2 separate regions of the Homo sapiens genome follow, and region 1 is linked to region 2. Evidence: fine-mapped expression QTL. A gene starts in region 2. The other region holds a variant in brackets. All regions are shown on one strand. Distances are from middle to middle. Region 1 overlaps NFILZ (NFIL3 like basic leucine zipper). Region 2 holds the start of ADAMTS10 (ADAM metallopeptidase with thrombospondin type 1 motif 10).

What was found. PIP is the estimated chance that this variant, and not a neighbour inherited with it, causes the effect.
Region 1: its variant is the best candidate, but not a certain one, in a credible set for the expression of ADAMTS10 in whole blood (INTERVAL, PIP 0.80).

The regions. Positions count from the first base shown.
Region 1 is chr19:8,677,061-8,681,448 of GRCh38, reverse strand. NFILZ (NFIL3 like basic leucine zipper) reads right to left here. Exons shown (of 6, transcript NM_001378600.1): 6 at 298-4,388. The coding sequence ends at 3,814. Among named protein-coding and RNA genes, the nearest start is that of ACTL9, 20 kb to the left of the region's middle. The variant AATAATG/G (reference allele first, on the strand shown) is at 2,174.
Region 2 is chr19:8,608,148-8,612,535 of GRCh38, reverse strand. It overlaps ADAMTS10 (ADAM metallopeptidase with thrombospondin type 1 motif 10), which reads left to right and starts at 1,821. Exons shown (of 26, transcript NM_030957.4): 1 at 1,821-1,892; 2 at 4,288-4,388. RefSeq lists a silencer at 2,501-2,923.

The DNA.
Region 1 (4,388 bases), 69 kb before region 2:
TCCCCCACATGCATCTGATTACCCTTTCTCCCACACTTGTCAAAAATAATTATTTAGTGGAAGACAGCTTCATAAAGAAAAAAAAGAACCATCTGTGTTTTTCTTCCATGATTCCACCTCATGGAGTAGCTTTACCTGCCCTGTCCGTCATATCTCAGAGAAGTTTAGAAGCAGGGATGGGATGAGCACCCTGGCTCTGAGCGCAGGGAGAATGTGGCCATTTAGGGGGACATGAGTCACAGCAACACTGTGGTCAGTCCCCACCTATCCCCACCCCAGACAATGAGCCAGCTCTCCTGCACTTATGTGGTGGGTTTATTTTCACTCAGCCTCACACATCACAGGATGGAGGTAAGGGGAGAACTACAACAGAAATATACTTGGAAACGTCCCCCTCATGCCCATATCACTCAGAAAGGAAGCCAAAGTCCTCACCTTGGCCCACAAAGTCCTCCACAACCTGCTTCCATCACCTCCCTGCCCTCGCCTCCTCCCTCTCTCCCCCTTACTCACTCCACTCCAGCCACATGGGCCTCCTCAATCTTCCTCAAAACACTAGGCACTATCCCACCTCAGGGCCTTTGCACAGGCTGTTCTTTCTGACTAGGAAATGTTCTTCCTCTGATACATGCATGACTCCCCCCTTCATCTCTCTCAAGTCTCTGTTCAAATGTCACTTTCTCAGCAAGGCTGAGATCCCCCTATTTCAATCCTGATCTCCCTATTTCAATTATTACAACGCACCCACACCTACCTTTCCCAAGCCTCCCTTTTTTCTCCATGACACGTATCATCATTGATCCTACTATATGTTTTTCTTATTTTTTAATCTATCTCCTTCCCTGGGTTATCAGTACCATAGAGGCAGGAATCACATCTATTGTGTTCACTTCTCTTTCCCCAGTACCTGGAACATAAAGATAGGAGACTATCTTTATGATCTTGAGACATGGAAGTTGTCTTAAACATGACAAAAATGTACAAACCACAAAAGAAAAGACTGCCAACTCGGCTGCATATGATTTTCAGACTTTTTACAACAAAACATGCCTTGAATAAAATGAAACAATGAGAAACTTATGATCAAGAAAATTTGCTAAATAAGCAAATGAATTAAAAAATGAATGAATGAATGAATGAATGAATGAAAATGCTGTTATAGCTGAGCCACAAGCTCGGCCCTGAGCTCCTTGGTGGGCAAAGCAAAAAGGGAAACAGGATTTTTTCTTTTTCCTTTTTTTTTTTTTTTTTTTCAGATGGAGTCTCGCTCTGTCGCCCAGGCTGGACTGCAGTGGTGCAATCTCAGCTCGCTGCAGCCTCCACCTCCTGGGTTCAAGTGATTTTCATGCCTCAGCCTCCCAAGTAGCTGAGATTACAGGCGCTCGCTACCATGCCCGGCTAATTTTTGTATTTTTACTAGAGACGGGGCTTCATCATGTTGGCCAGGCTGGTCTCGAACTCCTGACCTCAAGTGAGATCCATCTGCCTTGGCCTCCCAAAGTGCTAGGATTACAGGCATGAGCCACCTTGCCCTCCAGGATTCACATTATTTATGAAGATAAAACAGTCCAGAGAAGCCCCTATACCGGGCAATTTATTTACTGCCTCTTATTTAATATTCACAATATATTTCTAGGGAATGGGCTCATTTATAGGTAAACATTTATAGATGTATAAGGGAGGCTCAGTGACATGAGAAAAGCCACCTGCTGGAAGGTCAGGCATGGAGGGAAGGAGAAGGGCTGATCTTGCCCAATCCCTGCCCTGGACCAGAACCAAAGGCTGAGCAAGTAGAGGAGGTCCTACCTGTGATGTGCAGGATTCTAGGGATGCCCAGTCACAGGGGAGCTCTTGGCCTGTTTGGTGATACTGCCCACCTGTTGTACTAGTGAGAGAGAGGCACTTTGTACGTCCTCACCCTGCACACATTTGTGGCTCTGATAAACTTGGAGTAGCCAAGAACTAGCCCAGCCCCCAGATCTGGTGGGGGTGGGCGATGCTCCTGAGTCCAAGTGATCCAGTTGGCCAGGGGCATCTGGTTCTCAGTGTCAGTACCAGTCCAGATGAGCCCCCCATCCCATGAGCTCTCCCCATGATTGGAGTTTGAGTATTTTTATCTAGAATCTAACAAGATCCCTGATGTAATAATAATAATAATAATAATAATAATAAT[AATAATG/G]GGAGAGGGGCTGAGTGAGAAACTGAGGAGGAGGGAGCCTTGATAAGTCCTTGGGCTCCAGGCCCCTGGAAGACCTTCCCTGCAGAATGGACCCTTCCACCTGGGTGGGTGTATACCTGGTTCTCAGGGGCAGGGGGCAGCCAGGGAGAGAGAGGACACTGATGCCCTCACACAGCTGCTCCTGTTCCAGCAGCTCAAGGCCTGATCCAAGACACAGAAGAAGCCAATATGTCTGCCCCTCAAACTGGGTGGTAAGCAAGCCCCCCAGGGGACACCAAGAAGGGGGATTCAGACACCCTAGACGTTACCTCCTCCTTCAGTCTGGTCTTCAGTATGTTTCTTCCCAAACACCCATTCCTACCCCAGGACAGGAAACCCAAGACCAGAAAAGTGTCTTCTCACTTGTCACTAACTGGGCACAAAAGGAAGGTCTAAAGATCGTGAGTGGGTGGGTGAGGGGACAAGTGAATTATAAGTAAATTAATGAGTAAGAGAATGAATGAATAAACAAGTTAGCACATAAATGAGTGGCTAAATGAATAAATGAATGAAAGGATGGATGGGTGGATGAGTAGATGAATGGGTGGATGAAAGGAAGGATGTGTAGATGGATGGGTGAGGATGGATGGATGGATGGGTAAATGGATGAGGATGAGTGGATGCAAGGAAGGAAGACAGGATGGATGGATGAATGGGAATGGATGAGGATGGATGGATGGATGGAGAATAAATTGATGTATGAATGGATGAATGGATAGGTGTGTGGATGGGAAAATGGATAGAAGCAAGAAAGAATGGGTGGATGGATGGATAGGTGAGGATGGGTGGATGAGTGGATGAGGATGGATGGATGCATGCATAGATAGGTGGATGGGTGGATGAATGAATGGATGGATGGATAGATAGAAGGAAAAACAAATGCATGGATGAATGAGAATGGATGGCTAGATAGAAAGAAGGAAGAACAAATGCATGGATGAATGAGAATAGATGCATGGATAAATGGAGGATGGATAAATGGACAGATGGATGGCTGAATGGATGGACGGATGGATGAATGGATGGATGGATAGATGGACGGATGGATGGATGGATGGATGGATGGATGGATGGATGGACGGACAAGTGGATGAATGGATGGAGGGATGGATGGATGGATGGATGGATGGATGGATGGAATGGATGGATGGATTGATGGATGGATGAATAGATGGGTGGATGGATGGATGGATGGATGGATAGATGGATAAGGATGGAGGGACTAATGGATGGATGGATAAGGATTGATGAATGAATGAATGGATGAATAAATGAGGATGAATGGATGAATGGATGGCTATAGGGAAGAATAGATAAATGGAAAGGAGGAAGGAAGAGGGAAAAGTGACAACCCAAAGCATAGATTTTAAGGCAAGGCAAGAGCCATGGTAGAATCCAAGATGGGCTCCCATCCACTCCACCCCTAGGAGGTCTGGTATGGAAGCTGTGAAGTGGACCTTCCAAGCCAGGGCACCCCTACTTCCTACAGGCCTTCCCAGATTGCTGATCAAGACCAAGCTACTCATCCCTCAGACAAACCTATATTCCGCCCCCAAACACCCCCTTGCAAGCCTAGCCCTTCCCAGAGGAAGCCCTCAGAGGGGCGCCTGACCACCCTCCCAGCCACGAGGTACCCTGCCTGAGGCTCGGGACTTGATGCGCAGTTTGTGGGGCAGAGAGGGCTGACCCAGACCCTCAGGACTGTTCCCTGGGGCAGGGCAGGTCACCCCAGGAGACAGACCCATGGGATCAGCAGTGGGTGTCAGCAACACATCTGATGGCCCTGAAGCCCGGCATCCAGAGGGCACTGGTGACCACAGCCCCCAGCAGGGTCTGAGCTCTGGTCTGGACCCTACATGCCCCTCCAAGAGGTGACAGCTGAAGAGGGCAGGTGGGAGGGCAGTCTGCAAGGCCATGTCAATTCTGTTGAGGGTAGGAGATGCAGACTCTTGGGGGGACCTAGGAGAAGTGGCCAAGCCAGTCCATCTGGGAGCCAGCAGGCAGCCCCGACATCCTGGAATCCCAGCATCCAGGGAACGTGGCCTTAAGAGGCAGCTGTGAGAGCCAGACAAGGATGAGAGTGCTTCAGCCCCAGGCCGGGGGTCCCCAGTCCAGGGGGCTTCCAATAGCAGAGCCTGCAGGGGCAAGGCCCGGGGCCCACCAGTCAGGG
Region 2 (4,388 bases):
TGGACCAGTCACTAGGCTAACAGTGGGAGCCTTTAGTATCTACAGCAAAGAAAGGAAGCCACCACCTCTTTGATGGAGAAAGAGGGCCCCATAGGTAGTAGAAGAACAGCTAACAGAGGCCAGAAATGGCTGACTTAGACTCGTTCCTCAAATGGGGGCCCGAGAGGCCCTGGTGGGAAGGAGGGAGTGTGGGGAGCAAACAGGAGGGTGGGGGCTGCACCTCTGGTCTAGCCTGGAGTCCCAGGAGGTTGGGGTAAGGTAGTGTGGTGGGAACTCCAGGAGTCTGGTATTTATGCAGCACCTGCTGTATGCGTGAGTAATGACAGGTCATTCCAAGTTCAAAAGGAAAAATTCCGAGTTGGGAAGCTGCCCTCCTGGTCTCAGCTGTGTCCCTGGAACCCAGCACATAACAACAAATCTTTGCTGCAGAATGAAACCCCTCCTCCACCCCCTACTCCAGCCCTGGGAAGGCTGTTATTACCCCCACTGTGTGGATGAGTAAACCCAGACTCAGACAAAGCCAAGGCCAAGGCTCTGGCCAGCTCCCTGGGGGGGGGCGTTCCTGGGAAATGCCTGCAATTGTGAGGCCTGGGGGTCACCGCCCTTCCCTGGAACCAGGCACTGTACCAGGCGCCTGGGATTCAAATCCCAGCCCTGCCCCAACCATCCAGGTCCTCCTCATTCACGCATTCGTTCATTTTATGGAGCGAGACCCAGAGTGACCAAGACCAAGAGGGCTCCGGTTCCAACAGAATTTTCACTCTCCCCATCTCTGTGGCCTCAGTTTCCTCATCTGTGAAATGGGACCAGCTGAGCCTACGTCACCGCAAAGGAGTTAAGGCACAGAGACCAAGGCCAGGCCCAGGACCGATCAAACCCCCCTGAGAGCTCGGAGAGGGCGGGGCCGAGCTGGGACTTATTTCCCGCCCCGGGCACCGTGCCTGGCACACGGGAGGCGCCCAATAAATGCTTGTTTGAGCCAGGCCCAGCCCTCAATAAATAACAGCTGTTGTTGATGCCGCAGAGGCTGGCGAGGAAGTGGGCTCTCCCCTCCCCAACCCCAGCATCTCATGCTCCCATCCCCCCTCCAGCCCCATTCCTTACCCCCCTCCATTCCTTCCCGTGGCCCCCAACCCAACTCAGCCCCTTCCTCCAGGCCCCCACCTCCCCCCAACCCACTCAGCCCCTCCTCCAGGGCCCCACCTCCCCCAACCCCACTCAGCCCCTCCTCAAGGGCCCCACCTCCCCCCACCCCACTCAGCCCCTTCCTCCAGGCCCCCACCTCCCCCCACCCCACTCAGCCCCTCCTCCAGGCCCCCACTTCCCCCCACCCCACTCAGCCCTTCCTCCAGGCCCCCACCTCCCCCCACCTCACTCAGCCCCTTCCTCCAGGCCTCCATCTCCCCCTACCCCTTCCCATTCAAACTTCCCCCTCCCCCAACCTCTCCCTTCTCTTCCTCCCTTTCCCCGAACCCCCACCCACCCAATTCTGCCTCCATCCCCATCCCCCACCTGATTCTTTCTCCCCTCCCCCACCCATTCTCCCCGCCGCCACTCGATTTCTCCCGCTTCGTCCCCTCCCCGCCCCCCGCGGTTCCCCAGCCCCCTCCCACGCGGCGGGGGCGCTGGTCCCGGGCGGGGCGGCCCGAGTTCCCGGGTCCCTGGCTGGGGTCCAGCCCGCGGCCCAGGCCGGGCGGCGGCAGGCGGGCGGGGTTTCTGGCCGCGCGCAGTTTGGGGGTTTTTTTATAACCCTGGCAGGCGGCTCAGGAAGTGCCTTCCCCGCGCCCCCTCCCCTGGCCACGCCGCCGCGCTCGCTCGCTCCCTCCCTTCCTGCGCGCGCGGGGCGGCGAGACAGCGGCGGCGACGGCGCGGAGGCCCCGGGCGCGGCGCAGGTAGCGGCGCGGGCGGGGGGCCCGGGGGTGCGTGATTCAGTGGGACTTTGTGTGTCCGCATCGGGCTGTGAGGGCGTGGGGCTGTGGTGCCCTGGATGGGGGAGGGCATCCCGCTGTGCGACTCCGGTCGGTGCCTGAGGTCCGCAAGTGCGCGCGCCACTGATCACGCCCGGGGTTGCCGTGGGTTTGTTTGCGCTGTGTGTGTGTGTGTGTGTGTGTGTCCGTCCACGTAGGGGCAGAGTGGTTGTGCATTACATGTGTGTGTCAGTGCCTGGGGATGAGTCTCTTGTGTGTCTGTGTGTTTGGACAGTGTGTGCGCATAGGGGTTTGCTATGTGCGCGCAGATCTGGAGGCGAGTGTGTGTGTGTCTGGGTTTGTGTGTGTGTCCCCAAGCATGTGTGCGTTTGTCTCTGACCGTGATGAGTGTGTAAATACCTGTGTGTGTGTGTCTGGTGTGGGGGGGTGTCTAGGTCTGTGGGACTTGTGAGTTTGTCTCTGGTTTGGTGTGAGCATGCAAATGAGTGTGTATGTGTCAGCGTGTAGGCCTGTGTGTCTGTCTCCTTGGGTTGTCTGTGTATGTATGTGTGTGTTTCTGTTTGTGTAGGCCCCGGGTGCGTGTATTTGTGTGTCCGCGTGTTTCTCTGTCTTGTCCCGTGTGTGCGCGTGTAAATGAGTGTGTGTTTACACATGTCTGGGAGTGTGTGGTTGTGTGTCTCCATGTGTTTGTCTCCGGGTGTGTGAGTGTGCACTGAGCCTGTCGGCGTGTGTGTCTGCGGTGGAGGCGTCCTGCGTCTTTTGTGGGTCTACAGTGCCCGAGCGCCGGTCTCTGGTTGCGCGGGGTGTGTGTCGCTGCCAGTGTGTGTTTGTGTGTCTGGGTGTGGGAGTGGCGCCGCCCACTTCCCCTGAGTTGGTCAGTGAGGCCACAGCCGTCTGTCTCAGGGTGTCTCCAGCGGTCGGGCTCAGGGCCTTTAATTAGCGGCCGGTTGTGGGGGACCAGCCCGGGCGCCGGCCCCCTCCTCCCGCAGGCCCCGGCTGGGCCTTTGTCTGCTCTCCGGCAGGGACTGCCTCCTGCCGGCCCGGCCAGATGTGCAGCCGGGAGGAGGCCGGCAGGCTGGGGCCTCTGCCTGGGGAGACGCGGCCTTGGCCTCCACGGGGGACCTTCCGTCGGCCCTGTCCCCGCAGCCTGGCCGGAGAGGTTTGGGTGTGGAGCTTAGGGTCCCTTCAGGATCCCCGGGATGGGATGGGATGGGACAGAGCCTCTGTTTCTAAGCCATTTCCATTTCCCGGAGGCATTTCCTCCTCCAGGCCTGGCACCCTCCCCCACGCTGGCCACCTCCCTCCTGCCTTCGGGGAGGAGGGGCTGGAGGAATGGCCAGGCCTGGGTACACACACACACACACACACACACAGGGTCACACACACTCACAAGCCATAATGCACATGCAGTCACACGCTCACAATCACACACAGGGTCACACACACTCACATACATGCTGTAATGTACATGCAGTCACACACACACGCCACAGTGCAGATCCCTCACTGACATCCTGTTGGCCACCACCGTCTCTGTCCCTGAGCCTCTCTCAAGCTTCATCTTTGGCCCCAGACCCACTGCCTTGTTCATGTCCCCCCACCACCTGGTGCCCTGGGCTGTGTCACACCTCGACACCACCCTGTGGGCTGGACCCCCAGCTCAGACGCCTGTGAGCCTTCTGCAGACCCCCCTCCTCCCCCTACCCCATACACTGTGCACAGGTGAGTCCCCTTCCCCTGTCCTCACCCCCTGTGCTGGGTCCTTCCACAATGTCCCAAACCTTGTCCCTCACACCCCACCTGAGCCCAAAGCACAGAAGGGGGTGTGAGGGTTTTGGGAGGAGCGCCTCACTTCAGAGGACAGTGATGAGGACTGAGGGTCTTAGGGGGACCAGGACAGACCCAAAGACACTCTAGACAAGACCAGAGAGAGCCCCTGAAGGAGGAGGATGGGGCACCAGGCCTGGCAATGCAAGAACAGGAGAGGAGGGAGGGAGCCAGTGGGAGAAAGGGGTGAGGTCCCTGCTTCACTTGCAATGAGAATGTTCCTACCTTTCAGGGGTGGCTCAGGGCAGGAGCGGGGGTCAGAGGTGCCCAACCAGGAAGGGCCTTGATCTGGGAGTTGGCTGACACTTCCAAAGAAGGAATAGGGAAGAAGAAGCAAGAAGAGAGGGAGAGGGAGAGGAGGTGGGTTTTTGTTGGAGGGGGTTCATTAGGAACAGAAGAAAGAAGAAGTCTAAGAGGAAGTTCTCCAGGGGCAGAGAGAGGGTCAGAATTTCCTCAGTGATCCCTCAACTACAGACCCAGCTCAGTGCTGAAGACCAGCCCGGCTCCTCCTCTTTGACCCCTCCCTGCCCAGGCTCCAAAGAAGAAGAAACCAAGGCCCAGAGAGGGAGGCCCAGGTGCAGGGAGCAGGCGAGGGAAGGATCCGTACAGGGGCCCAACACTACTCCACCAACC